Regions from separate parts of the Homo sapiens genome. Here all the other regions are linked to region 2. Evidence: fine-mapped expression QTL. A gene starts in region 2. Each other region holds a variant in brackets. All regions are shown on one strand. Distances are between the middles of the regions. Region 1 overlaps CD82 (CD82 molecule). Region 2 holds the start of CD82 (CD82 molecule). Region 3 overlaps CD82 (CD82 molecule).

Region 1 (10,688 bases), 46 kb after region 2:
CTAACTTGGGCACTGAGCTTCCTGGCAGTCAAGGCAAAAGTGGAAAATAGTGGATTTTGTAGATGAAAAGCAGCTTGTTTGGCTGTGAGACAGGAAGCCAGCAGTTAAGGGAGGGAAATTCCTTTCCCAGAAAAATGGTCATGGGGTCAGGTCTTCATTTCTGTCCTATGGCACTGAGCTTCTTTAGGACCTAGTTAGTGATATAATCAGGGTGGATTAGAACCAGGCCCCAGTGAGCCGGTTTCTATGACTCAGAAGCTGGTCGCCTCTGCAGGGATCTTGGGCAGTCCACCCTATGTGATTCACCATCTCACAGTAATAAATATGGCCCACCAGGTTGGCACCAACCACATGCCAGGAGCTGAGCTAGAAAAGTGAGCTGCAATACATGTTCAAATTTACAAACATTTTCCATTTGAAGAAACTGAGGCCCAGGAAAGCAAAGTGACTTTCAGCCACTGACACACACAGCTTGGATGCATCAGAGTGGGGATTTCCATCCTGATGCCTTGGAGTCCAAGGCCCATGCCTCCCTATCCACCACGCTGCCCTCCCGCCGGCTGGGTAACTCTGCTTGGCTGATAATGAGGAGCTTAGCCTCAGAGGTGTCCTATCAGCCCCAGAACAGGACTTGTTTGGAGATTTGGGTTTCTCGACCCCAGCCAAGCTCTGTGCATTGCACCCCCTGCCCCTGTCTTCCCCTTCAGAGTCCACACCCCCTAGTCCCAGCCTGCCTCACCTTAGTCCACCACCATCTTTTCTGGAAGGCAGGGGGAAATTTTCTGGCTTTGCTGAAGAAGTTCTGGTGCCACTGTATCGCCCGAATTGGAATGAACAATATATTTTTTTCTTTCGCAACGCATCATAAATCTCAGTGGAAGACTAAACATACTCTTGATGTGTTTATTCTGGCAGACAAGGCTCAGCGTGGGGGTGGGACTTGTTTGAACCTAAGGAAAAGAAAGGCCTTTTGAAAGGAGATAGGGCTCCCGTGCAGGTGGGTGGGAGTGACCCTGCTGTGGTCTCCAGGGCTGCCCTCTGTCCTTCCTGCCTCTGTCACCCGCAGCCACTCTTCTCAGGGCAGCGATGGGGAGGTTGGGGACCTTGGCATGGCCTGTCACCTCTGGAGCCTTGGGTTCTGCTTCTATAAATTGAGAATAAATCTGCCTCTCCCTGCTCTACCACTCAGGTTGAAGTGAACACAGACTGTGACACTTCTGTGAAAATGCAGAATGGTGTCCAAGGGTCTTGACTGTGGAACCACTGCTCTGACATTCTGGGCATGCTACTCAGCCTCCCTGTGCCTCAGTTTCCACATTTGTCAAACTAGTAACAATATAGGCCCACTGTCCCTTCTCTGCAATTCTGAAATCCAAAGAAACACTTTAAAAACCAAAAGTAGCATTTGCAACTAATTTGGTGGCAAAATTGAACCTGAACAGAAGCAAGGCTATGTATGGCCTTTGCCTGCCCCATTCGGGTGTCCCTAGGGAAATAGAAATGAGACTCACTGCAGGCTGCTGCCCCAGCCCCCACTAGTGGGTGTGATCTGTCCCTCCAGGCCCTTTCTAAAATCTGATCCTGTCTCGAGCCGGAGCCCCCAGGGGCTGCCTTGCAGCACTTCAGAGATGAAGAGCACTAACAAACGGGAAGGGCGTCGTGCGGCACTCAGCCGGAGGCTGATGTTGCTGGCATCATTGCCAGTGTTTATTATTATTGCCGCCATTATTCACTTCATGAAGGCCTGGTAAGGGCTCAATAGGTGGCAGCTGTTCCTGCTGCCCTCGTTGTCAGCAGAGCAAGGGCTGCGGGAATGGGGATCTGGGCACGGTGCTAAGATCCTCATCTGCTTGTTTATCCAGCCTCTGGTGAGCAGAGCCCAGCCCTGGGATTCAGGGGCCCTGTGTTTTAGTGTGGGCTCTGCCGCTGATTGCTGTGTGGCTTCGGATAAGTTACCCAGACTCTCTGATCCACAGGCGAGCTCTTGGGCCATGCCCAGTGCAGGCAGTCAGGGATTCTGACTTGTTCTCTCTAGAGAGTGGAGGTGGGAGGAGTGAGAAGGAAGTGAATGCAGTTTGCCCTTTCCTGTGGTGTGTGGGTGCTGAGCTGGGTGCACTTGGCAGGCCATACCTGTGCCAGGGAGGCCCCTGAGGCTCTGAGTGCTGTCACGCTCAAGCAGAAGACATTGGAGGGGAAGGGGCTCACTTGGCCTGGCTGGGAGCCAGAGGTGGGGGCTGTGACAGTGGCAGTGGCTGGCCAGACAACTCCCCAGAGATGTTGGTCAGGGGAACTGTGACTTCCTTCTTGTCCTCCTTGCTCTCACCCTGAAAGCCCCAAATTGTTGGTGCGCACATACCCTCATGTGTGAGACACAGGTGGCGAGACGGGTTCCTAGGGGACAGTGTGGTTCTCTGTGAACTGTCTGCTTGCTGAATTAGAACTTCCTGATTCTCTGGCTTGGGGTTCTCTTGCGATGGGGCAGAGGGAGGAAGAGCAGCTGGAGCCTGGGACAGGGAGAGGTGACCTTTCTCTCCCCTGTTGAGAAGGGAATGGAGGAGTCCAGGCTACCCCTCTGGAAAGGGATTATGGAAAGACACTTGGGCTAGAATCTCTGAAGCACACGCTGGTCACTGGCTCTGCATTCTGGGGTAGCTAATTACGTGGATTGCAGCTGGACTTGCAGAAAAGATGCAGGAAGCGCCCTCATTTCCTATCAGGGTACTGGGATGCAGCCTCTGAGCTGGTGTATCTGTATTCTAGCAAAGCATTTGCCAACATCTCATGTGGGAAACCTGGAGAGGACAGGAAGATGTGGGTCCAATTCATGCATTTATACCTTATTATAAGGGGCTATTTCACACCTTAAAGAGCATGGCAAGAGGTCTGCACAGCACCCCAAGGGGCGGGCACAGGAGCCCGAAAAGTTACCCTGGAGATGTAGTCTAGTCTCAAGTATCTGGATGACATGTGTCCTTCGAGAGAGGGATTTGATTTGTTCCTGTGGTCCTAGCTGGGACTTGGGTAGCTGAGAGAGGAGGAGGATGTGAACTAATACAAGTGGGTAGAAGTCATTTGAGCAGAACTTAAATTGTATCAGAGCCTCTCAACTCCGCAACATGCTATTGTGTGAGGTACTGACTTCCCCATCGCAGGGAGCATTTAAGCAGAGCCTAAAAAAGCATGACTCTTACATTTGGATGATTTGCTGGACGCAAAGGTCTCTCCTAACTCTGACTCTGTGAAAATTCACACTAAAAGAGAAGTCAAAGCTCAGCATTTGGGTGGGACGTGAGTAGAGCCATGCAGAGGACAGCAGGGTCATGGGGAGGCCCTGGGCAGCTTGCCGAGGCTAAGATCCCGGGTCCCTGGAGCTGCACAGATCAAGGTCTGGTCATGTCTCTGCTGCTTTCTATCTATGTGATCTTGGGAAGTTGCTCCAACTCTGAGCCTCATTTTTCTCTTCTGAGAAATGGGGAGGAGGGAGACAGGGAAGACAGGGCTGGCTTCCTCGGCATTCAACCTATGCAGTCACACAGGATAATCTGCTGTTGCTGTATTGAAATTCTTTTTTTTTTCTTTTCTTTTTGAGATAGAGTCTTGCTCTGTTGCCCAGGCTGGAGTGCAGTGGGATGATCTCGGCCCACTGCAACCTCCACTTTCTGGGCTCAGGTGATCCTCCTGCCTCAGCCTCCCAAGTAGCTGGGACTACAGGCACACACCACCAGGCCCAGCTAATTTTTGTGTTTTTAGTAGAGATGGGGTTTCACCATGTTGGCCAGACTGAACTCGAACTCCTGACCTCAAGTGATCTGCCCATTTCGGCCTCCCAAAGTGTTGGGATTACACGTGTGAGCCACCACGCCCAGCTGAAATTCTTAATAATTTTTAAACAAGGGGCCCTGCATTTTTGCTTTGCACTAGGTGTAAATTATGCAGCTGGCCCTGGGCAGGACTCTTTATGGCATGTGACAGTGACTCAACTGAAAGTAGCCAGAGCCAGCAGAAGGCTCAGCTGGATCCCAAAGGCTGCTGCTGTCCCTATTCACCCTTCAGCCCTACCCTCCTCTGTTGGCTCCCTTCTCGGGCAGGCTGTCCCCAGTGGAGCCTGAGGGTAGCCCAGGTCCTCATCCTACCACATTGATGGAAAGAGGGCCGGGTATGTGAGCATGGGTCTCAAGCCCATCTCTGAACCACTCGCCGTGCCTGTGATGTGGATGGCACTGAGTGGCAGCCCAGGTCTTTTGCCTGCTTCTGGCATCGAGGGAGTGGGGCCTCCTCAGCTCCATGGAGAAATAGAAGGGTGGTTACATCCAAGGAGTGGGTTTCTGCAGGGCAGGCAGAAACAATGGAGCGGTCCCTGGGGGGATGGAGGGAGCTCATGAATGTCTTCTCCTGCTACCTCCCTGTCCTTTTTGTCTCAGTAGCTACCTGGTTGCCAGGGTGACCTCCCTGCACTCCCAGCACAGGCCTCCTGAGCATCAGCTCCAAGCTGAACCAGCCCCTGTGGCCATGGTCCCCGTGGCCCAGGTGTGTCCCTCAACCACATTCTGGACTGAAAGATGTTGTGGTGTTTCCATGGAAACCACCCATCTAGGTGGAAACCACCCAGCTTCCATCACCTTCTCATTTCAGGGAGGCTGGGAGAGAAACAGGGAAGTCCAGGCTGCTGTGACAACCACGCTGGGGTTTAAACAGAGCCTCAGTGCAACATGTTGTGAGGAAGCTGGGTGGGTGGGGAAGGATGTGGGAGAGGCAGCTTTCCGCACAGATGCTTCTAGAGAGCCCCTCCTTTCCACACCGTGGGGATCACCCACCCACTGGGGTTGAGAGGTGGACCCGAGATGTCAGATCACCTGGCAGACAGCCCCAGCTATGTGACTCAGGCAAACCACTTAGCTTTTCTGGGCCCTGGTTAAAACTGGGTATAGCCGTGTGGTTTAAATGCCAATAAAGCTTAATAGGTAAAAACCTGGGTTCTGAAATCAGCCAAGCCTGTGTGCAAACCTCACTTCTTCCGCATGTTGGCTGTGTGACTTTGGGCAAGTTAATTAACCTCTCTGGGTTTGTTTTCTGCATCTCTATAATGAGGGAATGGGGTGAATACCTAGGCCATAGGTCTGCTGTGAAGATTCAGTTGAGATAATACATTTAAAGTGCTTACCACAGCACCAGGTACATAACAAACATTTGATAAAAGTTAGCCACTATTAGTGTTGGGATTAATTACTGACAGGAAAGCTTTGTAAATTGCAGAACTCTGTATAAGGGCTTTTTTTTTTTTTTTTTAAATATCATGCTGAGAGCTTTATTGAGAGAAGGGCAGGGAGCGTCATCAGAGGCTGGTTTCCCAGCATTAATTTTTTTTTTTTTTTTTTTTTTTTTTTGAGATGGAGTCTGGCTCTGTCGCCCAGGCTGGAGTGCAGTGGCGTGATCTCGGCTCACTGCAACCTCCACCTCTCGGGTTCAAGCGATTCTTCTGTCTCAGTCTCGCGAGTAGCTGGGACTACAGGCACCTGCCATTCACACCCAGCTAATTTTTGGTATTTTTTTTTAGTAGAGATGGAGTTTCACCATGTTAGCCAGGATGGTCTCGATCTCCTGAGCTCGTAATCTGCCCACCTTGGCCTCCCAAAGTGCTGGAATTACATACGTGAGCCACCATGGCCAGCCCCAGCATTAATTTAACCAAGGGAGCTGGGTGAGGAGCCAGGGCTGCAGGTCCATCTGCAGGATATGGGTTCTCTGAGCACAGCGTTCATTCAAGGACTGCCCATGGGGAGCTGCTGGAAGCTCCACCAACAGGGTTCCCTGGGAGTCAGGCTCTGAAACCCCACCTGGAAGTACCTGTCTCATTTCTCCCAATTCTTCCTTCTCAGGAACCGAGGTGGGAAGGTGTGTGGCCTTCTCCTTGGCATCCCTGCCTTCTAGGGTCCCTCGCCCCCACTGCCTTGACCAGTCCAACCATGCATTTGCCCTGAAAGGTCTCTGGGCAAGGTCCATGTGAGAGGCTAGGTGGAGCCAGGCAGGGGCTGGCTCTCGGAGGCTCCCCTCCCACCCAGGCCTGCTTATCGCCGAGGGAGGCCCTGCCCTCAGCGGGCTCTGGGTTTGCCTCCTTTTGCACAACTGACTTATTTAGAAACCCCTTCTCTGCCTGCTTTGTAAATCAGTGTTTTCTCTGTGGGGTTAGCTGAGAGCAGGTGCTGCTCTCCACCACAAGAAGGAACCCTTAATTCCTGAGCAGGGTGAGGACCAGCATAGGCAAGATGTAGATTTGGGCCAGGCGAGGTGTCTCAGGCCTGTAATCCCAGCACATTGGGAGGCTGGGCTGGGTGGATCACTTGAGGTCAGGAGTTCGAGACCAGCCCGGGCAACATGGCGAGACCCTGTCCCTGCTAAAAATACAAAAATTAGCCGGGCATGGTGACTCATGCCTGTAGCCCCAGCTACCTGGGAGGCTGAAGTGAGAGGATTGCTTAACCCCAGGAGGCAGAAGTTGCAGTGAACTGAGATCCTGCCACTGCCCTCTAGCCTGGGTGACAGGGAGACCCTGTCTCAAAAAAACAAAACAAAGCAAAACAAAAAAAAAAAAGTGAGATGTTTTTGGAGCTCTGGGGCAAGTAGCCAGGTCCCAGAAAGGCAACTGACCTCACACTCCGGCTGGCTGGCACTGCTGGCTTGGGGCTTGGGAAGGGGTGAGGGAGGATCTTTTCTGTTTTGTTTTTTGTTGTTGTTGTTTTTGTTGTTGTTTTTGTTTTTTGTTTTTTGAGATGGACTCTTACTCTGTCGCCCAGGCTGGAGTGCAGTGGTGCGATCTCGACTCACTGTAACCTCCATCTCCTGGGTTCAAGCAATTCTCCTGCCTCAGCCTCCTGAGTAGCTGGGATTACGGGCACCCACCACCATGACTACATAGAGGGAGGATCTTTTGACCATATAGTTGATACCGAAGTTCCAGGTCCCTCAGTCTTGGGGCCCCCTCCAGGCATCTACCCTGCTGTCTTGGGGGCCCTGTTTGGAGAGGCTGCACTCTGGTCCTTGGAAGAAGGAAACTGAGCTGGGCTTTCCTCCCTGTCCCTCCTTCTCCCTGAAGCTGCCCTGTGGGAGGTGTAAGGATTCACCAAGAAGTTGCATGGGTCTGGCTCTGGTGCCTGGCAGACCATGGTGGTTAGGTGTGCATTCAGCATTCACGTACCCCACACAACTATTCTGTGCCAGGCTTGGCGCTAGCCACGGGGGACCCTGTAGTGAGCGTGCCAGATGTGGTCCCTGCCCCCACGGAGCTGATGTGCTAGTGGAGAGAGATGATAAGCCCTGAAAACCAACAAGCATGT[A/G]ACGTCAGTGCTCTAAAGAGAAATACAGCATGCTTTCCCTTGTGGGATAAGGGAGGCCGGGGAGGGGTGGTTGATTGGTTGGGGGAGAGGGGATGGGGAAGGGCTGATATTTTGTAGAGTGGTCTGGTAAGGCCTTTCTGAGGAGGTGACATTGGAGCAGAGCCCTGAAGGAAGCAGAGGGTGAGCCATGTTAATGTCTAGGGGAAGAGCATTCCAGGCGGTGGGAACAGCAGGTGCAAAGGCCCCAAGGCAGGAGTGTGCCTGGCACAAAGACAGCACAGAAATCTAGTCAGTTGAAGCAGAGGGAGGAAGAACAGAGGACAGAAGGCCTGGGGAGGCAGACAAGTGGTGTAGGACCTCCTAGGCTGTTATGGGGACAATGACGGTGGGAACTGCCCTGGAGGTGGGAGGCCCCTACGGGGTTTTCAGCAGTGACATGAGAATATTGATGTTTACAGGGCCAGGCTGCTGCCAAGCGCAGAAGAGATAGTGGGGCAGGAGTGGTTGGCACTGCCTGCATCGGGCACCCTGGGAGCGCCAGGAAAGTGGCTGGAGCCATGAGCGTGTCCCAGGGTTGCTGAGGGGAACGGGGGGAGGCAGTTTAAGTAGGGGTGACCACAGGTGGGCACGGGTTTCAGGAAATCTGACCCTGACCTTTGTCCTCCCCCCTGCAGCTGAAGCAGGAGATGGGCGGCATCGTGACTGAGCTCATTCGAGACTACAACAGCAGTCGCGAGGACAGCCTGCAGGATGCCTGGGACTACGTGCAGGCTCAGGTGAGGTGGGGCGGGGCTGCAGGAGGCTCTCTGGCCTGGGTGTCCCTGCATTTGGGGCTCTGTGCACCCACATGTCTGGGACTGGCATCTGCAGTGCTCGTGTGTGCCTGACAGTTTGTAGGAGAGTGTGCTTCTATGGGGGCAGGGCACCCCAGTTAGCACCACAACTCCCTGCTCAGGGGGCCCAGAGACTCAGAGGCAGCTTCACAGCTCTGTGCTCCCATTTGTGGCCAGAGAGCATGGGGGCAGTTGTCAGCCCTCTTATCTCAAGCTACACTGGGGAGCGTTGGGAGCTCCACTCTGGGTTTTAGGAAACTGGGAGCCAAGGCTGATATGCTGAGAAGTCCCAGTGAAGGCTGCCTCTGGGGAAGGGCACTAGCTGGGGAGGTGTTGGGGAGCCTTCTAGGGCAAAAGGAGTATTTTAGCCAAATCTTGATACTGGTTTCGCCAGTATGTGCACATACGTAAAAATGCACCAAGCTGAATGTGTGCCCATTAGTTCATGTGTATTATACCTCCATTAAAGTGAGAGAGATGGATGGATGGATGGGTGGACAGATGGACGGACGGACTGACCGACTGACCAACAGATAGACTGACCAGGTTCCCAGCCTGTCTCAATAGTGATCCAATGACCACCTGGCTCTCCTTTCTTGTGGTCCCGGATGCTGCATGTGCCCTTGGCTGGGACCTGACATCTCTGATCTGCAATCCTGTGAGGGCGCAGGACACAGTGGTCACTTAGGGCCTGTTGACACCTCAGGGGAGGGATGTGGAGTACAAAGGGCATGGGCAGCAGGAGAAAGCCTGACTCAGCGGCACCAGGAGAGTTTGCAGAGAGGACACTCCATCTAGGTGACATGGACATGGCCATTTTCTCAGTGGAGGAAGGGGAGAGCGATGTTTTCTGGCCCTGACCGAGGAGATCAGGTGTGGGGGTTGTGGCAGCTGGAAGGCTTGGTGCACACAAGGAAATGTTTTGGTCGCATATGTAGTTTGACCCACAATTGCTGAGACTTTGCTAATTTTAGCAAAGTCTGGATGTCACCAGTGACATAAACCAGTGCCACCTGACAAGGGACCTGGGAGGAGAAGTGGGTCCCTTGGGAGGTGGTAAGCATCCTACCCTGGAAAGTCATTGGCTGGTTCTAGATGATTCTGATGCTGTCAGATGCTGCTTAGGCCGGTGGTAAGTCAGACTCCCAAGGCCTGGAGTGCTAACACTGCCACAGCCGCTAGACCTTTGCTGAGCCTGCTTCCTCATCTATACAATGGGGCTACTGACCCATGCCGTGTGAGATACATTGTTAAAGCCTGAAGCACTTAGGCAGCATTTATTATGTGGTATGTTGGTGGTGATGTTTTAGTCACCATGCACATCCATGGAGACACAGGCGGAGGTGGCGTGTGCTGCTGGGGACCAGGTACAGCCGGAGTCAGGCCAAGGGGTTGCTTGGAAGGAGGCTCTGTCGTAGACGGGCCAAGGAGACCTGCCTCATTTTGCTCTGGTGTAGGATGGCCTGTGGGTGCCCCCAGCCTTGCAGACCTGTGCACCCCTCAGAGGTGCCAGCCTTTTCTTGGAGAGAGGAGGCAGCCCGGCTGCTGGAACAAGCACCTGTAAACCTGGATTAGAAACTGCCTGGAGCTGAGCATTTCTGAGTGTGCCTGGCACGCCCCCTGCTGGCCACTGGCTACTGGTCAGGCGACACCCCTCGGAGCTAGGAAGGAAGCGGTCCAGGAACTGACCCCTGCTGTGACCGTGGCTATCCCATTGAATCCTCCCAGGAACCCCCAGCATTGCGGGGATTCACACACAGAGACCTCCTTTAGCACACAGAGCCCGGAAAGGCTTTCTTCTCTCTAGAACTAGAGCATTTTCTCCTTTAAAATGGCAGAATTGACCAGCTAGCCAAGGTGGCTCACACCTGTAATCCCAGCACTTTGGGAGGCCGAGGCGGGCGGATCACTTGAGGTCAGGAGGTCAAGACCAGCCTGGCCAACATGGTGAAACCCCGTCTCTACTAAAAATACAAACATTAGCCGGGCGTGATGGCGAGTGCCTGTAATCCCAGCTACTCAGGAGGCTGAAGCAGGAGAATCGTTTGAACCCTGGAGGTGGAGGTTGCAGTGAGCCAAGATCACGCTGCTGCACTCCAGCCTGGGTGACTGAGCAAGACTCTGTCTCAGAAAAAAAAAAAAAAAAAAAAAAGGCGGAATTGACCCCGTCTCCTTTTTCACTTTTCACTTTTTTTCCTTTTCACCAGGAAGCTCAGAGGCAAATCTCAACTCCTGCACTAAAGTTGAACGGCCTTTCCTAAGCTTATTGTGCTCCCCACACCTATGCTTGGTACTTTGCCTGCCTCATCCCATTTAGTCCTTGTGATAGCCCTGTGAGTTGGGGATTTTAATTATCCCCATTTACAGATGAGGAAACTGAGGCTAGTTCCTTGATGGAGGTTGCTCAGCTGGTAGGCGGCAGGGCTGGGATTGTAACCCAGTAGCCTGACTTTAAACCCTGCACTGTGAACTGTCTGCCGTCCATTCTCCTTGTGCCCTGCACACCTGCGCTCCTTCAACTTGA
Region 2 (10,144 bases):
CCACCTCTAGAATGGACTAGAGGTAGAGTCTCACTAGAAGTGTCTGCGCTTTCTGCCTGGCAAAATGCCCAAGGTGAGTCATGACAAAGCTTGCCTTCTGCTGGAAGAGAGGGGATAGGGACAATGCTGAGGGAGCCAACCCAATGTGATATTTCAGTGAATGACTCTGCTATGGTTTGAATGTATTGGAAACTGAATCCCCAAATTCATATGTTGATGGTATTTGGGGGTAGGGCCTTTGGGAGGATTAGATAAGGTCATCAGGATGGGGCCCTCATGATGAGGACTGGTAGCTTTATAATAGGATGAAGAGAGACCTGCGGTGGCATGCCCTTGCCCTCTCACCATGTGATGAGTCAGTAAGAAGGCTTTCACCAGATGTAGCCTCTCAACCTTGGAATTCCCAGGCTGCAGAACTATACAAAATAAAATTCTTTTATCGATTACCCAGCCTATGGTATTGTGTTATAGCAACAGAAAATGGACTAAGTTAGACTCAGATGCACATCTACTCAACAACTGTCCCTTAAGCTTCCAGGCATGTGCTAGAAGCTGGGGAGACAAGGCCAAATGGCAATGTCACCATAGACCTGGACAAGAGGGCACCTGTGGCCACCCAGAGCCCACACCTGACCTTGATCATGCTTTGGGTGTTTAAAAACCTAGACTGCCTATCCAGCCCAAGCCAGTTTTTTTGTTTTGTTTTGTTTTGTTTTGTTTTGTTTTGTTTTGTTTTTTGAGACAGGGTCTTGCTCTGTTGCCCAGCTGGAGTGCAGTGGTGCAATCTCAGCTTACCGCAACCTCCGCCTCCCTGGCTCAAGCGATCCTCCCACCTCAGCCTCCCGAGTAGCTGGGACCACAGGCACACGCCACCACACCCAGCTAATTTTTGTAGTTTTTGTAGAGACAGGGTTTCATCCTGTTGCCCAGGCTGGTCTTGAGCCCCTGAGCTCTTTAATCCTCCTGCCTCAGCCTCCCAAAGGGCTGGGATTTCAGGTGTGAGCCACTGTGCTCAGCCCCCCAGCCAGTTTTAAGGTTTACAAAGCTGCCTGCCCAGGTCCATCCTCCTGAGGGTACATCCTGTCCCTGGAATGTGCATTCATAGAGAGGTGACGAAGAGGTGGCTGTAGGCAAGGCGTGTGGGCAAAGTTTGGGTGTGTGGGCTGGAGTATCCACATGCCTGAGTCCTAGGCCACTTGTGACACAAGACAGAGATGGAGTGTGAAGAGAAGTGGAGTGGGTGGGCTGAGGGCTAGGGCCAGGCTATCCTCCCGCACTGCCATGTTCTTGCATAAAATTCTAAAGAGTCCAAGAATGCTAAATTTGAACATGGTCTTCCTGGTCATTAGAAAGAACATTTGTCAAGGCAGGAGAATACACATTTTATTTCACAGTCAGTTAAATGTTTAGATACAAGGTATCTGGTCCTTGATTTGCACTCTTAACTTGGGCTCTCCATGTTCGGGCAGGTCAGCATAACAGGACCAGTGCCCAGGCCCTGCACTCCTACAGGGAGACACTCTTCTGTGGGACTCAGACAATGACAGGGAGTATGGCAGAGATTCTAGAAGCTGCCTGAAGACTGCTCTCAATGTCACCACAGCTGCCTCTATCTCTAATCAGGAGTGGCAGGGCAGCAAGGGATAGCAGATGGGACTAATATGAGAGAATGTCTTCATGGGGGGAGGGGACAGTGAGGGGATCCAGCTGTTTTGCCAATGGCCAGTTCCCATCTGTCTGCTGGAGCCCTATTAACTTCAGTAGGGATGGTACTAGGTTCAAGAGGCTGAAGGAGAGACCAGAGCCAGCAACTGGGACATGGGGTTTTATTGGGAAACTTACACACAGGGACGGCCGGTGGCAGTGGGCTGGACAGGAGAACTGTACAGTCCCATGGCAGGCTGGGCAGGAGAGCCACAACCGCTTACAAAAAGCATGCAGTTTATACATCACTCTCACTTAGCACCCTCCCCCTAACAACCCCCACCTGATAACCTTCATTTGGCCCCAAACAAAGAGCTTTGAACCCCTGTACACCCTGCATTCCACAGGATGGGCCGGGGTTCAAATGTTCCTCACAGATAAGGAATGAATCTCCAGGTTGGTCATTCCCGGATTCCTTAGCTCAAAACTCCAAACACACATTGGGGTGCATCTGCCATACAGGACCATTCTCAGGGTATGCTTAAGTCAAGTTATTGCTGTCAGGAGCATCTGCCATACACCATCACAAACACCCCCAGCTCGGAGGGAGCGGGGTGTGGAGTAGGGTGGAATAGGAGGAATTTTATGCCCATTTTGCATGGGCTGGGTAGGGTAGGGATCTGAAACCCAGCCCAAGACAGAATGGCACAGTGGTTCTCAAAGTGTGGTCCCCGGACCAGCATCCACATCATCTAGGAGCTTGTTAGGATCTTAACCACTTGCAGGATAGAGGGTGTCTCTCTGCGGGTATGACACACTGCTGGGTTTAAAGGATTCTCCAGCCTCACTTTTCTGACTTGGTGTGGGAATGCTATGAAGGAGACTTTTTGCTGAAAAGAGAACATTTTCTGAGCATGTACGGCATTCAAGCGGTGGGCCAAATACTTTATGAATGCTGTCACATGTAATCTTCAACAGCTACCATCAAGATCGGTATGATTGTTATGGCTCATTTTATTATTATTCCCTGTTTAAGGGCTCATCCCAGAGGTTAAGTATCTTGCCTTGTCCTGGGTTTAAAACGCAACCAGGAAGCTACCTAGGTCTGTGTGATTCTCAGACCACCCTGACTTCTTTACAGTTTGCTCAACAGTGGTTCATGCTTGAATGTGATTCAGAATCACCTGGAGGCCTTATTAAAACCAATTGTCCCACAGTTTTCCATTCAGTAAGTTGGGATGGGGCTTCAAAATACGCACTCCTAACAAGTTCCCAGATGATGTTGCTCCTGGTTCAAGGACCACGCTGTGAGAACTACAGTGCTGGGCTGGGATCCAGCTCCCGCCCTTACTCCACTCGTACAAAGCGCTCATAATCATACCCTCCCACAACGGTGTGTTGTGAGAGGACATTGTGATAATGGAAGTGAAAGAGCTTTGTCAGCTGCACAGGTGAATGCCCCTGGTCATTAACCAGGTAATCTGCCTGAGGCTAGTCCTCTGGAGCCTGGGAGGGCAGAGGGCTGGGACGCAGGGTGGGCACCGCAGCCACCTAGAGAGCTCTTGCAGCCCACCTCAATTTTGGGCCACTTTTTCTTCAGGGAGAAAGCCAGCTTTGAGGGCTTAGGCCCACAGCCCCTCCTGCCACTATTCTCATCAACCCACACCTCCTCCCTCACCTCAGGCAGCTGCTGGGCACTGCCCCAGCACTGGTTGTTCTGGGCTACTTCCCCAGGGGCCAGTCCAGGCAAGCTGGGGCAGCTCAAGCCTGTGACTCAGGACCTGAGGCTGGATCCCGCTCACGCCCGCCTCCATGAGATTCAGAGCCCTCGACTTCCCTTCTCTGAGCCTTAAACTGCGCATTAGTAAAATAGGCGCAACGAGAGTACCCATGAGTTGTGGGAATTCAAGGGCTAGAACTGTATTCAGCGCTTGGCATAGAGCCTGGCCCCTGGCAAGGATTCAATCAATGGTAGTCAGTATTTTCAAAAAGTTCCTGGGCCCAGGCCGCCTCCTGATAGAGGCCCCGACTTAGGACACAAACCGCTCCCACGCCGTTCCCCGGCGGCACCCGGATACACCCGCCCTGGAATGCCAGCGTGGGGGCCCCAGGGCTACCCGCCCGAGATGAGAGGGGCAGGGCAGGGCAGGATTAGGAAGGCGCTGAGCCCAGGCTGGTGCGGGGAGGGGCGTGGCCTCACCCTACTAGGGCCGGGGGATGGGGTGGGCTCGAAGGAGAAAGTGAAGGAGGCGGGGGCGCTGGGAGGGCCCGGGAGGAGACCGGGAGGACGAGGTAGGCGGGAGCTGGGCGGGACCGTTAGGCAGCGCCGTGAGTGGACAGGGCTGGAGCGGGGCGGGCTTAATCCCCAGTGTAACCTGGGGGCGGGGCTGCCGGGATAGAGGAGAGACTCCGTAGCGGGGCGGGGCCTCAGCTCCAGCTGGGCCCGGGGGCGAGGCTGGTTGGGGTACGGCCATAGTGGGCGGGGCCTGGCCGGCGGGAGCGCACCGCCTTCCCAAAGGGCTCGGGGGCGGGGCCGGCGGAGGGGGCGTGTCTTCTGGGGGCGGGGCCTGCCGAGTCCGCGGCGTTCCCCGGCTGCAGCCGGGAGGGGGCCGAGGAGTGACTGAGCCCCGGGCTGTGCAGTCCGACGCCGACTGAGGCACGAGCGGGTGACGCTGGGCCTGCAGCGCGGAGCAGAAAGCAGAACCCGCAGGTGAGCAAGGGGGCAGCGGGCCGGGGTAGCCTGCCGGACAACCATAGGCAAAGTTAGTTTTAGCCCCCGCTTCTGCGGTCCGGCTCGGACAACTTTCCTCGGAACTAGTGACAGGTCGGGGCAGCTGGTGGGTGAAAAGGAGCTTTAGCCACCAGTCCTGAACCCCCAGTTCTCACACTCGGCCGTGCACAGCTGCGTGATCCTGGGTCCGTCCCTCTACCTGGCTCTGGACCTCCCGGGTTCCAGCAGGAGGAAGTGAACCAGGTGAATTCCACGCTCCCGTTGCCCTTTCTCACTTAAAACGCCGGAAGGTGAGAGCTGGCAGGTGAGAGCAGGCTGCAGGTCGCCACAGGTGTTCCCATCGCGTTGCCCTCTGCAGTTTCTCTCCCTGCAAAATGGGACTGAGAGAAGCGAATTGCTTTAAAGAGTGCACTGTTTCCTCGGTTGGGGCTCGAACCCACCAACCCTGGGGAAGAGGAGGCCAAAGCAGGGAGGTTCCATTTCCCGCCTCACCTGCTTCCCACCAATTCTAACAGTTCAACTGAGCCGGACCCCCTAAGACTTCAAGTTGGAAACTCAGTGGGGCTTTTCCAGGTGAGCTGGCCTGAGCAGGAGGTTGGAAACTGGGGAACAGTTCTTACACTGGTGAGTGGGGAAGAGAAGGGAAAACCCCACCAATCCTTGGGCCCAGGGTCAAGCCCAGGGCCCCAGGGGCCCTTGAAGCATACCCGGGGTTAATTTCTTGGCTGACGGGTTCTGTTCCTGGAGGTGGTGGGTGCTCTGTGCTGGGCCCCAGTAGCGGGGCAGCATAGTTCTGTGGTCAAGGCTTGGGCTTTGGGATCAAACTGATTTGGATTCCATTCCCCCTCCAAACTTCAGTTTCCTCACCTGTAAAATGGGGATAATGACAATATCCAATAGCAGGAGCAAGCACTAAATAGAATAATGTGTATACACTACTTAGCAAGGTGCCAGGAAACCAGTGAGACCTCCCTCTGTGACAGCTGCTTTGATGCGGGTGGGCAGGTGATGGGCTTGCTTCCTATGGGGAATGAGCCTTTTTTTTTTCTTGGAGAGATGGGGTTGGCTACAGCCCCTCCTGACCTTGTGAAAGCCAGAAATTGCCACCTGCCACCAACATCACTCTATTTGAGGGATGAGGACTGTGTCATCTGGAACAAAGAGTGGCTGAGTTTTCTGTAATGTTGCTTGAGGTTGGTAAGTGTTGAGTTAAATAAGTCTAAAAATGTTTACTGAGCACCTACTATATGCTAGAGAGAGCTAGAGGATACAGAGGTGAACTAGCCAGGCCTGAGTTGCTGACAATGAGGGCTCCCCCATCCCTACCATGTCCCTGTAGAGAGGATCAGTCACACCCAGGGCTTATAACCAGATGAGATTTCATGGGTCTGTTCTGCCCTGGTGGCTGGAATCCAGCTATACCATTGCACACTTGGCTTGGGATGGGGGCGAGGGGCAATGTGGGCACCCGATATCTAAGCAGGGTTGGACACTGAAGGACGCTGAAGGTGCTGCATTATATTGGCTCCCTGCATCTTCTGGGAGATAAGCTGTACAGTATGGAACAAACTGGAAAGTGCTGTGGGACAGAGACGGACTGGCGGCTGCGCTGTGTGCAGGAGACTGTGTGTGTATGTAGGGCAGGGGGAGGTGTTCAGAAGAGTGAGACACTTGAGAAGCCAGGGCAGGGGGTGGGGGTAAGGAGGCTTCCTGGAGGGGGTGAGACTTGAATAGGACTTTCTCTCTGGGCTCCTGGTCCTGGTTTGGCTTGGATCAACATGGGACCACAGTCTCTTCAAGCACTGAAGTGGCATAAATTGGAGTTTGGTATGGTGGGGAGGGAGAGGGTCTGGTAGGTGGTGCCTGAGGTGGGGAGGAGGAGACGTTCATTTCAACAGAGCCTACCTAGTGAGCCTTAATGGAAAGCCCTCCCCACCACCACCCCCACTTCCTGCTCGATGAATGACAAGCGACCACATAAGGCCTGCACCCTCAGGTTGCTTACCATCCGGGAAGGGGCTTACACAAGAATACCAGGGACTCTGATGGAAGATAAATGAAAAAAGGATTAGAGGGATCTTCAGGGCCTTACAGACTGGGAAGATTTCGGCAGCCAGAATGAAGATAGTGTCTTGAGGAGAGGAAAATGCCTAGGCAGAGGCAGGGAGGTCAACCTGTCCTGAGAATTCTCGAGAAACCTCTAGGTTGCTCATTCTGGCTGAAGTTTGGGAACGTGTGGGGATATGCAGTGGGAATAGTAGGTGGGATCAGCTTACGGAGGGCCTTGAATGACAGGATAAGAACTTTGGATCTGATTTGCAGAAAGTGGGAGCCACTGAAGGTTTCTGAGGAGAGGAGTGACACAACAGAGCAGCACTTTAGGAAAGTCAGTCTGTACCAGATGTGCTGGGGTGGAGGATCCAGCGGTCAAGGGATAATGAACCAATGGCTGCAGTGACTGGGAAGAAGGGGTCTGGGTGGCTTTGGGGATGTCTGCAACTGGGAGTGAAGGAAGAGACACCAGCCACAGGGAGAGCAAAGGCACCATTGGAGGGGTGGGAGGGGACTGTTCCAGCACATTTGCACTTCTTTCTCCTCCCTATCCTGTCTGGTACATAGCAGGGTCTCAGGAAGGTGGCTGGATTGGGTGAGTGGCGGGGTTGCTGGGAGGGTGATGAATGCTACAGAGGGGTTTGCCCATGAAGGGGAGGCATCTGGGCCGAAAGGTGGGAGCCTGTGCCAGCCAGCAGTAAGTTTGGGGGTCGGGGGCGGGATGGTTAGAAGAAGTGCCTGCTGATCCCTCCCTCCCATCCCAGCCCAGGGAGGATAGGGGTGAGAGGTCAGCCATGTGCTATCTCTGGCAGTGGGTGAGCAGTCAGGGCACAAGTTTCCCACAGTAGGGGGACTGGGGCAGGATTTTGGCTTCCCTGGGCTCCTCTGAAGTTTCCGCTATGTGGGGGCGGCCCCCTCTGTCTTGAGGCCTCACGCTTTAGAGCCACAGCCTGGAAGCTCCCACCGGCCATCCCCTTCCACCCTGGGGACCCAAACCTGTTCCCCTAAGGACCAGACAGTCCTCCCTCAACCCATGGCTGAGCAGCCCCAAGTTCTGAGTGTTGTTTCAGATTCGGAGCATCTGGGGCCAGCTGGCACCCCTGATTCTGGCTTGACCTTGGCCTTGGCCTTCTGCTCCAAACCGTTATACCCACTTCCTCTGCCCCATGGGAAGCTCACAGGGGGCGGTTATGACTTAATCAAGAACATCAAACGGCCAGGAGCTGGCTCTGTGAGAGGTGGGAAGGGAGGGAAGAGCCTGGACTGTTTGGCCTGGGCCCCTCTGTGGGACAGGACCCGTTTAATCTCAGCAGGAACTGCCCTACCCACCCGCTTCCCCTCCACTAAGCCGGGGTCTGAGGAGCTGGGAGGGGAAGCCCAGAGGTAAACATGGAGTGAGTGGTGTGGGATGTGTTGCTCCCCTCGCCCCTGATGCTGCCCTAAGAAGAGGCAGACAACCACAGACCCGGGGCCTCTGCAACAGGCCCAGCTGGTGTCTCTCGGAGGCTGGCTGGTTCCTGACTCACCCCCGGGCTTCCCCTTCCACTGTGGTTTTCCTGTCAGCAGCTGATTCACTGTGCTGACATGGACAGGCAGCTGATGGAGGAAAGAGACCTGTGTTCTGGTCCTTGGAGTTGGCTGCTGCTCTGCTGTGTGTATGTTGTGTGACCTTAGATAAGTTCCTTCTCTCTGGGATTCCTTCCCTGACTTGCTGATGCCCCATTCTTTCCTTGGCTCTCGGGGAGTTCTGGGACCTGGGATCTATCCTTTGCAAAGTAGGGCATGTCTGTGAACACCCACCCATACTCAGGCATGCGCACACACACAAATACAACCCCAACACAGAGGAGCTGGGCAGCTCCCCTCAAAGAGCACTTGATCCTACCTCCCTATTTTTACCTTGTTTCCCCCACCTGAAGCACCTTTATCTTCTTTCTGCCTGTTAACAGATTAGGGAGATGATGGTACAGCATGGCGGTAAAGCACTGGACTTTAGAGTTGAGATCTCGGCCCTGCCAATTTCTGGCTACGTGACTCTTTCTGAGCCTCAGTTTTTGAACCTGCAAATGGGGATAATAATGGTCATGACTTCATAGGTCATGAGGAGAAGACAAAAAAGTGCACATGAAATGCTTAGTATTGTTATACCTAGCACATAGTAAATGCTCAATAAAGGAGAGCCATTGTTGTTTGCTGTATCTGGTTGGTCTTTCAAGGCTGGTGCCAGGCTCCTTCTCAGGCCCCCAGGGACACTCCCAGAACACCTTCCTTCTGCACAGGGCCTCTGTGCCTCTCCAATATGTGTGTGCCCCAAGACGCCAGTCATGTCTGGCTATGTGGGGCTCTCTGGCTCTTCCTGGGGGTGGCTGGGTCTCCTCACTGTGACGCTCAGCTTCCTGAGGGGCAGTAGGTCTGAACATCTCTGGCTGCCTTTCCCAAGCCCCTCATTGCCCTTCACCTTCTCCTCTGTGCTTGGCTGCCTTTCCCAAGCCCCTCATTGCCCTTCACCTTCTCCTCTGTGCTTGTCTACACTGTGTACCCTCCTCTTTGATCCTGCCACTTTGTGGTGTATGATGTGTTTCCATGAGCTCTCCTGGGCAGGCACTGCCCTGTCCTGTCTGTATCTCTGATTCCTGGCATACAGCAGGCACTTGGGGATCGATGACTGAATGAATAGGTTAGTGGTTCTCTTGGGTGAGGCCGGGGGTATCAGCAGTACCTAGCTTGGTACCACATACCAGGTGACTCCTTGGCAAAGTGGAGCCGGGAAGCAGGACCTGGATGCCACTGCCTGGTGCTTCAGGCCTGTGGGCCGCACTTCTGCAACCTGGATCCAGGGAGATGGGAATGCACCGTCTGTCCTGGAATTGCTTTCAGCAGAGCTTCTGCTTCTCTTCCGATGCCTGGCCTTTATTACCCTCCTGAGAGGGGAACAGCATGACTTCCTTCAGTCCTAACCCAGGAAGGGGCCACTCTGGCCTTTAGTGAACTCTGACTCAGCCAGAAAGAGCATCTTGGAGTCAACAATTGTTTGTGGAAGGTGCTGCTATCCTGTGGGGACTCAAGCTGGGGCCTGGAGAAATGGGACGGTGGCCTCCAGGAAGCCCATCCTGGACATCATCCATGCAGACCCCCAGGTGGGCAGCTCTGGGAAGCCCCACTCTCCCCTCTGACCTCCTACCCTGCAGCAGAAGCTTTTGCCTCTTCTCCGCCGCCCCACCCCGCAACTTGACTTTCCCTGCTGTGTGGAAGGGTGATCTGGTGTGGGAGTTGTTCAGAGTTCTGGGCCTTGGCTCTCAGTGTCAATGTGGAGAAGTGAACAATGCCCTGGTAGTTGGGCATTAGGAAGCCCGGGTTCAAATCCTGGCTCTGCCATGGAGCTACAGCATGACCTTGGCCAGAGAGGTGACTTCTAGGCAGGTTTTCTTCCTTTTAGGCAGCAAGTGTTCCAGAAGCCTTCCTGAGTCCCAGCTGGGCTTGGGCCTGGGGGAGTGGGGAAGAAAGCCTGGGCAAGATCACAGACTCTGGAATCAAATTGCCTAAGGATGATTCCCGCCTCTGCTACTTACCAGCTAGGCGTGACTTTGTGTCTTACCGCTCTGTGCATCAGTTTCAGCATCTATAAAATGGAGACAATAATAGTACTCATCTCATAGGGTTGTTTGAGAATGATATATGAGCTAATGCATATGAAGCATTTAAGACAGCGCCTGGCAC
Region 3 (10,688 bases), 30 kb after region 2:
GCTACTGTCCAGGAGGGACCACTTCACAGAAGAAAGATCTTGGGGTCTGAAAACCACTGCCACTTATGACCTGTGTGACTTGGGCAAGTTACTGAACCTGTCTGAGCCTCTGGTCTGCCAGGGATAGGAATACTCACTTCCTGGGCTGGTTGTGAGGATGATGGGGGATGATGTCTGAACATGGCCACTTGTAGTAGTTGCTATTCCCTGGCGGCCACTCCTTCTCCTTACAGACGTCATACTTACTCTTATTTTTGTTTTTATTTTTTTTGAGACAAAGTCTCTGTTGCCCAGGCTGGAGTGCAGTGGCGCAATCTCAGCTCACTGCAACCTCCACCTCCTGGGTTCAAGCGATTCTTGTGCCTCAGCCTCCTGAGTAGCTGGGATTACAGGCACCCACCCCCACGCCTGGCTAATTTTGTATTTTTAGTAGAGATGGGGTTTCACCATGTTGGCCAGGCTGGTCTCGAACTCCTGACCTCAGGTCTTCTGCCAGTCTCGGCCTCCCAAAGTGCTGGGATTACAGGCATGAGATACCGTGCCCGGCCTATACTTATTCTTTTCTAAAAGCTGCCCTTTGCTGAATGCCCCACCGTGAGGCTGAGCAGAGGATGTGTGAGCTGGAAAGTGTAGAAACCCCTTTCCCGGACTTTCTGAAACTGCAACACCGTGGATCTGACTCAGGGTTGCCAAAGAACTCTTTCCACACTTCTGCAATTTCACAAGGATGCCAATGGCCCCATTGCCAAGACGCATAGTTTGTTGGCGGACTGCAGTTAGTGGATGTTCTTCTGGTGAAGGGGTGGCCTAGCTACTGCTGCTTGGGCGCTGAACCTGGTTGGTCTCTTGGGGCATGCCCCGTATTGTTTACTGGGAGGAGACCTGGTCAGGCTGAAACACAGCAGATCCGTGGTAGGAAAGAAGAACAGATGCCGCCTGGCTTTGGGAGAGAATCTCTCTTCTCTTGCTGTTTAGTTCCTGGAGTCTGTGAAGTGCCTGTGGTATGTCAGGCTCTGTGCTGGGAGGTGAGAGAGAGGAAAAACAATAGCTATCCTTGATGTAGTGCAGACTCCCAGGAGGCCTTCCTAGGCCAGGACGGGGTTTGGGCATTGAAGATCTCTGGCTTCCTGGGCACGGGGAAGTCATGTTTTCTCCTCTCTAGGTCTGGGGAGTTGCCCAGGTTGCACTGCCCTGGCTCCCGAGTCACTGCCATCTCTGCAATTCTCAGACCCAGGCCTTGGAGCCCCCTAGACTGGAAGAGCCATTTAGTCTAATCTCCCTACATAGCACTTAAATCCCCCAGGAGTATTTTTTTAGACTTTGCTTCCATGCCGCTTGTGATGGGAAGCTCACTACCACCCAGGCAGCTTTTTCCTAACTTGGGCAGCTTTGCTTCATATTATACCTCCCAAATCTGCCCTTTAAAAAGGCACTTAAAGAAAACTTCCTGTAACAAAGCTGTTAGAGGAAAGAAAACTGGACTGGACCCCTTGGGAGGTCATGAACCCTCCTCATTAGCCACCTTCCCCATCACCGGAGGTGTGTGAAGTGGAAGCTGAGCTCCCACTTGACAAGGAGGATGGAAGATTGTTGATCGTTAGCATGTCCAGAAAAGAGTAGGGAACCTGTGTGTAGCCGGGGAAATTGAAGACTTTCAAGTGGTGCTGGAGGAAGAAGGAGTGAAGCCCGGGCCTCCGGCTTTCCTTTCCCTTTGCTCTGTGGCCTGCCCTTCCCCCTCCATAAGGCAGGGAAACACAAGTGGGCCTGGTGCCGTCCCCTCCACCCCCCCAGCCCAGCTCTGCCCATGCAGCTGTCCCAGGCCAGCTGTCCAGGCCCCAGCTGCCCGGCGGTGCTGGCTCCCTTTGCCCCAAAGGGTCTGAAGGCTGGCGGCTGGCACTCCTGGATTTTCTGGCCTCTGAGTCAGGGTGAGAACAGTCAGCTTCCAGCTTCCCTCTTCCTCCCGGGGCCCTCCCCTCACCTGGGGTCTTTTGGAGTGGAGGGGGCACAGCATGCCCAAGCATGGTTTGTGTCATTTCAGAAGCACAACTTGTGTCATCGGGGAGACTGTGAAAACTTGGAAACAACCTGTGTGTCCAATCTTAGAGTATCAGTTAAATGCTTTTATGGGATGGCCACATCTGAGACTTTAACCTGGGGCCACTGGGGTTCCTGAATGGGTTTCAGAGGTCCATGAACTCCCAGAAATTATTAGCATCACAAAATGCTAACTACACATGAATTTTTTGGGGGACTCTGTGAGCCCCCAAATGTTAATAAGTACTAATAGGATGGAATCCTATGCAACATGTGAAACTATGAAGAGCATTTTATCAACATATAGAGAGTGAAGATTGTAGAATGAAAAAAACAGGCTAGAAAACACTATACAGAATGAGCCCAATTTTGATTAGAACCATTTGTTATACACACACACACACACACACACGAATAATAGCTACTAAAACGATGACAGTTTTTAATCTCTGGAGTGAGATACATTTTGCTTGATTTCTGTTTTTCTGTATTTGTTGGGTGTTCTACAATGCATGTTTATTCCCTTTGTAATAAGAAGCTGGGACGCTCAGCCTATTTTCTGAGAAGCCAAAATTCCCCTTCTCGCCTTGGCAGACCCCACAACTCCCAGCCCCTAGTCCCAGAGGGAGTCTGTGGAACAAGCACAGGTCTCACCTCTGGGTCTCTGTCAATGGATCACTAACTTCCCGGCCCCCTGACTTCAAACAGAGTCCATCTGTGCAAGTTCCAGAGCCTGGGTCATGGAGGTGAGGGGTGAGGGTCTCCCTCTGTCATTTTGCTCCCACCAGCCCCAGCCCCAGCCCCAGCCCCAGTGCAGTGGCTGATCCGGATCCTAACTGCCAAGCATCAAGTGCCTGGCACACAAGACTGCTCGTGGGACCTCATTTCCTAGCTGTGTGGCTTTGGGCTAGTTGTCTAACCTCTCTGGGCCTCTGCATCCTCTAAGGCAGGGACAGGGTTAGTACCCACCTCCTGGGGTTGCTGCAAGGGCAGACTGAGCTGATCCCCTCACTGGCCTGCCTGCCTTCTCTCTTCCAGGAAGCTCCAGGACTGGCGGGATGGGCTCAGCCTGTATCAAAGTCACCAAATACTTTCTCTTCCTCTTCAACTTGATCTTCTTTGTAAGTATGTCCCATGCCGTCCTGACCACCTCCGAAAAGATTCTCCTTCCAGGGGCATCCCAGCCTGAGCCTTTCCAGAGCCGACCGGGCCGGGGATTGGGGGGATTTGGTGGGTAGGGACTGAGGACGAACTATCTCCAACGGAACCTAGTTGGGGTGGTGAGGAGATTCCCTGCCATTCCCAGCTGGTCCTTTGACCAAGCACTGGATTCCTGACCCGGCCTTCCCCTCTCCTAGATCACCCAAAGCCTGGGCTGGCGGTGGGTATGGGGAAGGAGAGGAGAGCCCCTGGGCATCCCCCTAACTCAACAGCAGGAGCTGCTAGAAGAAGCCTCTTAGCATCTCTCTAGTCCTGTCCTGGCCCCCACCCTGCCCATGTGAAGAATTGACCTGTGACAGTTCCAGGCCCCAGTTGCCCCTATCACACCCCCGTCCCTGTCGTGGGAAGGTATCTCCCTGAGCTCTCATAGGGAGAGCAAGAGGGCGCCAGGCGTGGGGCCAGTGAAGGGCACATACCTCCTTCCCCAGACCCACCCCAGCAGATGGGCCATCCGGATGTCAGCTCTGTGGACATTGACTGCTGGTTTTCCTGGGGCCTCGGTTTTCCTCTCTGGCCTGGCATGGACTGCCTCTTGCCTTGGAGTTGCTGGGATGGTGGGGTGTGTGTGTGAGTGAGAGTGTGTTGTTGGGGGGCAGTGCCCTGGAGAGGACTTCATAGCCTCAGAGTAGTGTTGGGAGCGCTGGCTTCCCTGTGTTGACGGTTTAACCCTATAGTGTTAAAAAAAAATCAGGTTGTACAGTAGGATGTTTCTTATGATCCAAAGTTTTAAATGTACGTATTCATTAAAAAGTGAGTATTTTTGAGAGGAGAAGAAAATACCTCAATGTTAATGTTGGGATTCTTGGGAATTTTGATTTTATTCTTTATGCATCTCTGTATTTTCCCAATTTTCTACGGTAGATATTAATTACTTGTTTGGGGAACAGGGGGTTTACATTACAAGTTACATAGTTTATGGGAAGTTTGGGAAATAAACAAGAATCATTCTAAATTCCCCTTCTGGCCAGACATGGTAGGTCTTGCCTGTAATCCCAGTGCTTTGGGAGGCCAAGGCAGGAGGATTGTTTGAGTCCAGGAGTTCTAGACCAGCTTGGGCAACATAGCAAGACCCTGTTTCTCTACAAAAAAAAAAAAAAAAAAAAAAAGAATTTTAAAAATTCCCCCTTCACAGCTTTAACCCAATGCACAGACATGTACAATGTGTTCCTGGCACCCGCACACAAGTGTTCATACACGCATGCACACACACAGGAAGCCCTGGCGCTGCCTGCCTTGCTTTTTTTCCACCCTGGCCCCGGCCCTAGCTCCCTCCTGGAGGACCCTGTGAGGCCCCACTGTGGCTCTGGCCCTCTGCTCATGGCAGCCGGGCCTGGAACCCACCCCAGGCCGGGCTTGGGCTTCCCCAGCTTGGCGGTCAGGTCTCTCCTGGCTGCCCTAGGACTTTGGGAAGCAGCTGCCTGTGCAGGCAAAGCCAAGCTTTTCCTGGCAAGCACTTGGTGTCTGGGCGGAGACCCAGCATAAAGGCCAATGGGCCAGGACTCGGGGGAAGGGGTGCGTGGGCACTGTAGCTCTATCCCTGGGGGCTTTAGGGACTAGAGAGAGGAGCCTGGGCTCTGGCCTAGGAGATCACGGAGCTTGGGTTTCAGTGATAAAGAAACTTTCCTTCATGCAGTGGGGGTTGGGGAGACCCTCATAGAGAAAGGGAGTGGGGTTGGTGGTTTCAGCCAGGGTGGCCCTTTCTGTCCTGCTCGCAAGTTGCCCTGTGGAACCAGGGACTGGAAAAGCTGCTCTCTGGCCAGGGCTTGGCCTCCTTTTGGCTCCTCCAGGGGCTGGCAGGAGTCAGGTGTTAACTGT[C/T]TGTGTACTGGGGCCTAGGATGACCCATCAGGATGGTGGAGGGGGGAGGGGCAGCTTGTATGACAGGAGGGTGAGAGTGAAAGAGGAGGGCTGGAGGAGGCAGAACGGGCTTGTTTACTCCTCAGCAAATGTGTATCTGACACCTCAGCATCTTCAGATGTTCAGGGCGGAAGAGCCCTGATTGCTATACTTCCGGAGCTTGTGTCCTAGGGAGCAGTGGGCTTCCATCAAATAACTACTCAAATGCATGAAAAATTGCAGTTGTTGGGGGTACTAGGAACAGATAGGCTCTTCGGAAAGCAGATGAGGCTCTTGGCCTGGTCATGGAGGTCAGCAAAGGCTTCCTGGGGTTCTGGGTGTGGCTTTGGAGAGGGGGATCCTGGCAGCAGGGGCAGCCGGTGGAGGCAGAGTGCACCTCCCCAGGCATAGACCCGGCCAGCCTGCCTCTTTGTTTTATGCACATTGGGAGGGGTTTCGTGGTTGGATTTGTGGTTTGGAAAAATCCCCGTGGCTGCTATGTGTGCTCGCGCCTGCGTGCATGTGCACCTGTATGTCTTTGCCTGTACTCCCTCTGGACTCCAGACTCCCCAGCGCATTGCCACTTTTCTCAGGTCCAAAGGAATGCAGAGGCACTGGTGCTGTGGCTATGCTGGGGAAGGACGCTCACTGCTCTGAGGGTCCTGGCTCCTGATGGGTCCCATCTGGGGATTGGGGAAGGGCTGGGGGAGTGATTAACATGGGGCCTGCCCCACAGCTCCAGTCTTGGTTCACAGAGAAAAAGGGGGTGCCATGGTGCCTTGCCCATTCTGGTAGGCTGCCCAGCCTCCTTTCTGGCTCTGCCACAGCCCCGTGGCTAATCCAGCCACATCTGACCATCAGGCTGGGGTCATCAGACCTACAGAGGGACTGAATGGGTAGCCCCGGGGACTTTGCTCTCTGGGTTCCTCTTGGCAAGCTGAGGAGCCAGCTGAGTAGTGTGGGGTTTTGATCTACTTGGGATTATGTGTGCCAAGAGGGGATTTTCTGTCCTGCCTCCCATTCCCTTTTGGTAGGGGCTGTCCTCCCTCCTGTCCCACCCTGTGAATGTGGGAGGGAATGGGGCAGGGGCTCTGCCCACATGGGTCTGAGATGCAGAGGGAGCAGACGTGGGCCTGAGCACTGGCCCCTGCCTCGCTGTGCTGTGGGGTGGTTGTGGGCTGGGTAGGGTTGCAGGTCTTGGGGAACCAAACTCCCAGGTCCTGGAAAGCCCCCATTTCCCCCAGCTGTGCAAATTAAGGTGGACCCACCTTCCAGCAGACTCTTCTCCTCCCCAGTGTCTCAGGGGCTTTTCTGTCCCGAGACTGGCTTTCTGGGTGAAGGCCCAGGATGGATCCAAAATATCCCTATAGCTCACCTGCCACCATCTGGCTTCCAGTCCCTGATGGATAAAATCAAGGCCTCATATAAAATTCCGTGTGTATAAAATGAGGTCAATTACAAGGCCCGTCTCACTGGGAGAGAGGAGAGGACAGATAATACCTCAGTGATGATTCTGGTGGGAGACACTGGGGGGCAGACGTGGGGTGGTCACCGTGCCTTTGTGGTTGTAGTCATCAGTCACAGTGGTCTTTAAGGTAGCAAGTACAAGGGTAAAGGGAGAGAGGCAACCCCCTACTGAGCCACCTGGGCCCTGGGGCAAAAGGAAACATTGATAATACTGATACTGTCAACATTTTATTTCAAAGTTTAATAGTTCAGTTATCATGGATTTTTGGCCTTAATTTTTTTTTTTTTTTTTTTTTTTTTTTTTGAGACGGAGTCTCACTCTTGTTGTCCAGTCTGGAGTGCAGTGGCGTGACCTTGGCTCACTGCCACCGCCGCTTCCTGAGTTCAAGTGATTCTCCTGCCTCAGCCTCCTGAGTAGCTGGGATTACAGGACCCCATCAACACGCCCAGCTAATTGTATTTTTAGTGCAGACGGGGTTTTGCCATGTTGGCCAGGCTGGTCTCAAACTCCTGACCTCAGGTGATCTACCCGCCTGAGTTTTTGGTGCCTCCTCATGTGTTACACCTGAGGCAGGTGCCTCGTGCCTTGGGCCGGTCCTGGCTCTGGTCTTTGATAATGATAGAATGATTCTGATGGAGACCCTGTGCCCAGGCCAGCCCCAGGCTCGGGGCTCTATGGCAGCTGCTGGCCTCCAACCTGAGATTATGGGATGATGGCTGAGGTGGGAACCCAGGGCTGTGATACAGGTGGGAGTTTCAAGACGGGTCATCCACCAGGTGGGCCCAGTCCAGGCCCCCACTAATGGCCAGCCTTGTGGGTTGACACAGGGCCACCCCCACCTCCAAAGGGAACCTGCATCTTTGCCCAGATGGCAGGCACTTCCCCAGCCTTTGCCAGCTTTATGGGATGGTGGATCTTGGCTGGGACTCCACCTGGGGAGATGAGCTCAGCCCTGGTAGATGGGAGAGAGGCAGGGAATCCCTGGGCTTGGGATCCTTATTTGTAACACCTCATTCATTTTTTCCTTTTTGTGGGGGGCAGAGTGAGGGGGTCTTGCCCTGTCACCCAGGTCATGTCATGAACACAGTTCACTGCAGCCTTGACTTCCCTGGGGCCAAGTGATCCTCTCTTCTCAGCTTCCCCAGTAGCTGGGACTACAGGCATGCACCACCACATTGGCTAATTTTTGAAATTTTTTGTAGAGTCAAGGTCTCACTGTGTTGCCCAGGCTGGTCTCAAACTCCTGGGCTCAAGTGATCCTCCTGCCTGGGCCTCACAAAGTGTTGGGATTACAGGCATGAACCACCGGGCCTGACCTTCATTTCCCTTTCTAGTCCTGCATTTGCAGTTTGGTTCATCAGCTCATTCATTCCCCCAGCCACTTAGCACCCAGTGCTGTAGAGCTGCTGGGGATGCAGAGCTGCCTCCAGCCAGCCCTGCCCTCAGGGAGCTCACAGTTTAGCCAGAGAAACCAACACAGCAGTTAGACCCAGTCGGAATGACTGTTAAGAAGGGTGGGACAGTGGTTGCTGCAGAATGGGGGCACCCGAGTCTGCCTGAGGGGGTCAGAGAAGGCTCCTGTGGCAGGTGACCCTGTTGTTCAGACCTGGGGATGAGTTGGGCTTTGATGTTCAAGTCCACGGAGGGTCCTCCTCAGAGCCTTTCTTGTTTGGGAAGCTCCCAGGCCCTGAACTGGGTGGAGTCGGGGGGATGAGCTGAGAAAAGAGCCAGGAGATGTGGCAGGAAGGGTGCCCCTGGCAGGAGGCTGCACCAGGAGGCTTGGCTGAATCACACATGGTGGAGGGGGGCAAGATGGGAGGCAGGAGGGATTCCCTATCCAGGGTCCTGGTGTCTGGCTTGCTGCGATGTGGGACCGGAGGCCATCTGGACATCTCTGGGCTGGAGAAGGGTGGATGTGGTGCCCTCTGTGGCCCCCTGCCCTGCCCACCCTGACTTGGGTTCCAGGGACAGCTGGCAGGGGGAGGGCTATCTGCTCTTGGCTCCCCATTAACTGCTCCCTTCTCCTTCCAGATCCTGGGCGCAGTGATCCTGGGCTTCGGGGTGTGGATCCTGGCCGACAAGAGCAGTTTCATCTCTGTCCTGCGTAAGGACCCCTCAGCTTCCCCAGACCCAGGCCCACTGAAGAGGGGAGGGCCAGGGCGCAGATACAGCTGCTCCCATAAGTGCTTCGGCTTCAATGCCTGTTGCTTTTCCCGCTGACCTCAGGGATGTGGCGAGGTCCTGCTGCCCACCACTGCCCATGGCTCCCTCTGCAGGGGTTTCCAAAAGGAATTTTCTCTTCTTCCCCGAACAAAGCTGCTGTTGTCTGGGGGAACACTGGGGATGAGGGAGGCTTGTTTTCCCTTCCTGGCCCCTTCCCTTGGCCCTGACCTTAGGAAAGCCTCTTACATTCTCTGTCCCGTCACTTGCCCATCCAGCAGAATGTAGGCAACAGCCCCTCCCATTTCACAGGGATGTAGGAAAGATAGTCAGGGGCTGATGAGGCACCTGCTATGAGTGGTGCTTCGCTATAAGCCTGGCAGCACCTACGTGGGTCAGGTGTGTGCACAGATGAGGAAGGTTCCAGGCACAGTCACCAATTATCAGGCTCCTCATGTGCCAGGCAGTTTGCACCGATAAACTGTCTTAATCCCACCACAGCCCTGTGAGGTAGATACTGTTCTATTCCCACCTCACCAATGAAGAAACAGAGGCTCAGAGAGGTTAAGTCCCTTGCTGAAGTTCACACAGCTTCTAAATGGTAGGTGTGGGACTCGAACTCCAAGAGCTTTGGTCCTAAATGCAGCACATGGCAGGGTGAGCCACAGTGTGGAAACCCCTTCTTTCACCAGAGGCAGAAGGAAAGGGGCCTAAGGCATTTTTACAGGGATAAGAGCCCTTCTGCGCCTGCTCGGCCTCCTCCAGGAAGCCGTCAGGGCCTGCCACGCTGACTTCTCAGGGGCTCCCTGTGGTGGGAGAGGGAGGCACAGCGGAAGCCCCCAGGGGACAGCCGTGCCACTCCCCTCGCTGAGTTTGGCCTTGGCTCACTTCTCCCAGCAGCTGCCCAAGGCAGCTGGTTTGGAATGTGGCCCATGACAGCTGCTTGATTTACATAAAGCGGAACCTAGCTAGGATGTGATGATGGAGGGGCCACATCTGTCCCCCTGGCCCCAGGGGCTAGGCCTCCCCTCCAGGAGATGGAAAGCAAGGATGATCTACACTCTAGCCACATCTGATGCACCCCGGGGCTATCAGTCTCATCCCCTTTCACCCTCCATTCTGGGGTTAGGGTGGGTGGGCTACCCGTGCCCCCCACATTCTCCTGGCCTGTGACACACCCTCCTTGGCCCCATTAGGCCCAGCTCTCTACTTCCTGAGTCATGGCCCAACCCAGCAGGCACTGCACCCCAGGGCAAAGTCTAGAGGCCCAGCCTGCCCACCCACATTTCTGCCCTCTGCGCCCTGCCCTGCAACTGGCGCAGTGGGGGTGAGCCCACTGGGTGGGGAGAGCTTCCTGCATGGCTCTGGCCTCCTCCCTGTTCGGGTCTGAGAATCTCAAGCTGGCCGGACCTTAAAGGTCTACTATCTGCAGGAGGGGGTGCATTTTACAAATGCTTTGGCCCGAGCCCCACCCACCCCAAGGGACCTGACTCGGTTGGTGTGGGTGGGAGCCTGAGTGCTGGTGTTTTCTAAAAAGTTCCCCAGGTGGATTCCCCAGGCAGCCAGGGTTCAGAAACACTGATCCTCTTGCCTGGTCACTAGGCACTTGTGTAAACTGAGGCCGGGGGTGGGGAAAAATGACTTGCTAATAGTCACAGAGCAGCTGAGGGGCAGAACTGGGGACAGCTCTTTCCCTACCGAGTTGAATCCCTGCTCTGAGTCCACTGGGCTGGGCATTCCTATCCTCATTTTACAGAGGAGGAAATTGAAGCACAGAGAGGTGTAGTAACTTGTTTAAGGGCACACAGCAAGCTGGTAGGGGAGCTGGCTGCAGATGAGGTAGCCTAGCTTCCGAGCCCGTGCCTTGAACCCCTGGACCACATGGCTCTGCAGCCACATGCCACTGGTTAGTACCTTAGTAACAGGAAGCACTTTGCAATGAAGAGCAGACTCTAGCCTGACTGCTGGGGTT

The links. PIP is the estimated chance that this variant, and not a neighbour inherited with it, causes the effect. A credible set is the group of variants that fine-mapping cannot tell apart.
Region 1: its variant is the best candidate, but not a certain one, in a credible set for the expression of CD82 in whole blood (TOPMed, PIP 0.81).
Region 3: its variant is the best candidate, but not a certain one, in a credible set for the expression of CD82 in blood mononuclear cells (TOPMed, PIP 0.86).

Annotation. Positions count from the first base shown.
Region 1 is chr11:44,607,267-44,617,954 of GRCh38, forward strand. CD82 (CD82 molecule) reads left to right here. Exons shown (of 10, transcript NM_002231.4): 7 at 8,006-8,107. Among named protein-coding and RNA genes, the nearest start is that of CD82-AS1, 7.3 kb to the left of the region's middle. RefSeq lists enhancers at 1,634-2,134, 2,138-2,307, 9,151-9,500 and silencers at 4,770-4,849, 4,920-4,969. The variant A/G (reference allele first, on the strand shown) is at 7,332.
Region 2 is chr11:44,561,383-44,571,526 of GRCh38, forward strand. CD82 (CD82 molecule) reads left to right here and starts at 4,281. Exons shown (of 10, transcript NM_002231.4): 1 at 4,281-4,354. RefSeq lists enhancers at 453-954, 955-1,454, 4,294-4,794, 5,300-5,369, 7,676-7,725 and 1 more and a silencer at 3,780-4,379.
Region 3 is chr11:44,591,571-44,602,258 of GRCh38, forward strand. It overlaps CD82 (CD82 molecule), which reads left to right. Exons shown (of 10, transcript NM_002231.4): 3 at 3,073-3,155; 4 at 8,588-8,660. The coding sequence starts at 3,093. Among named protein-coding and RNA genes, the nearest start is that of CD82-AS1, 8.4 kb to the right of the region's middle. RefSeq lists enhancers at 4,653-5,231, 5,232-5,811, 5,235-5,474, 6,800-7,300, 7,301-7,801 and 1 more. The variant C/T (reference allele first, on the strand shown) is at 5,071.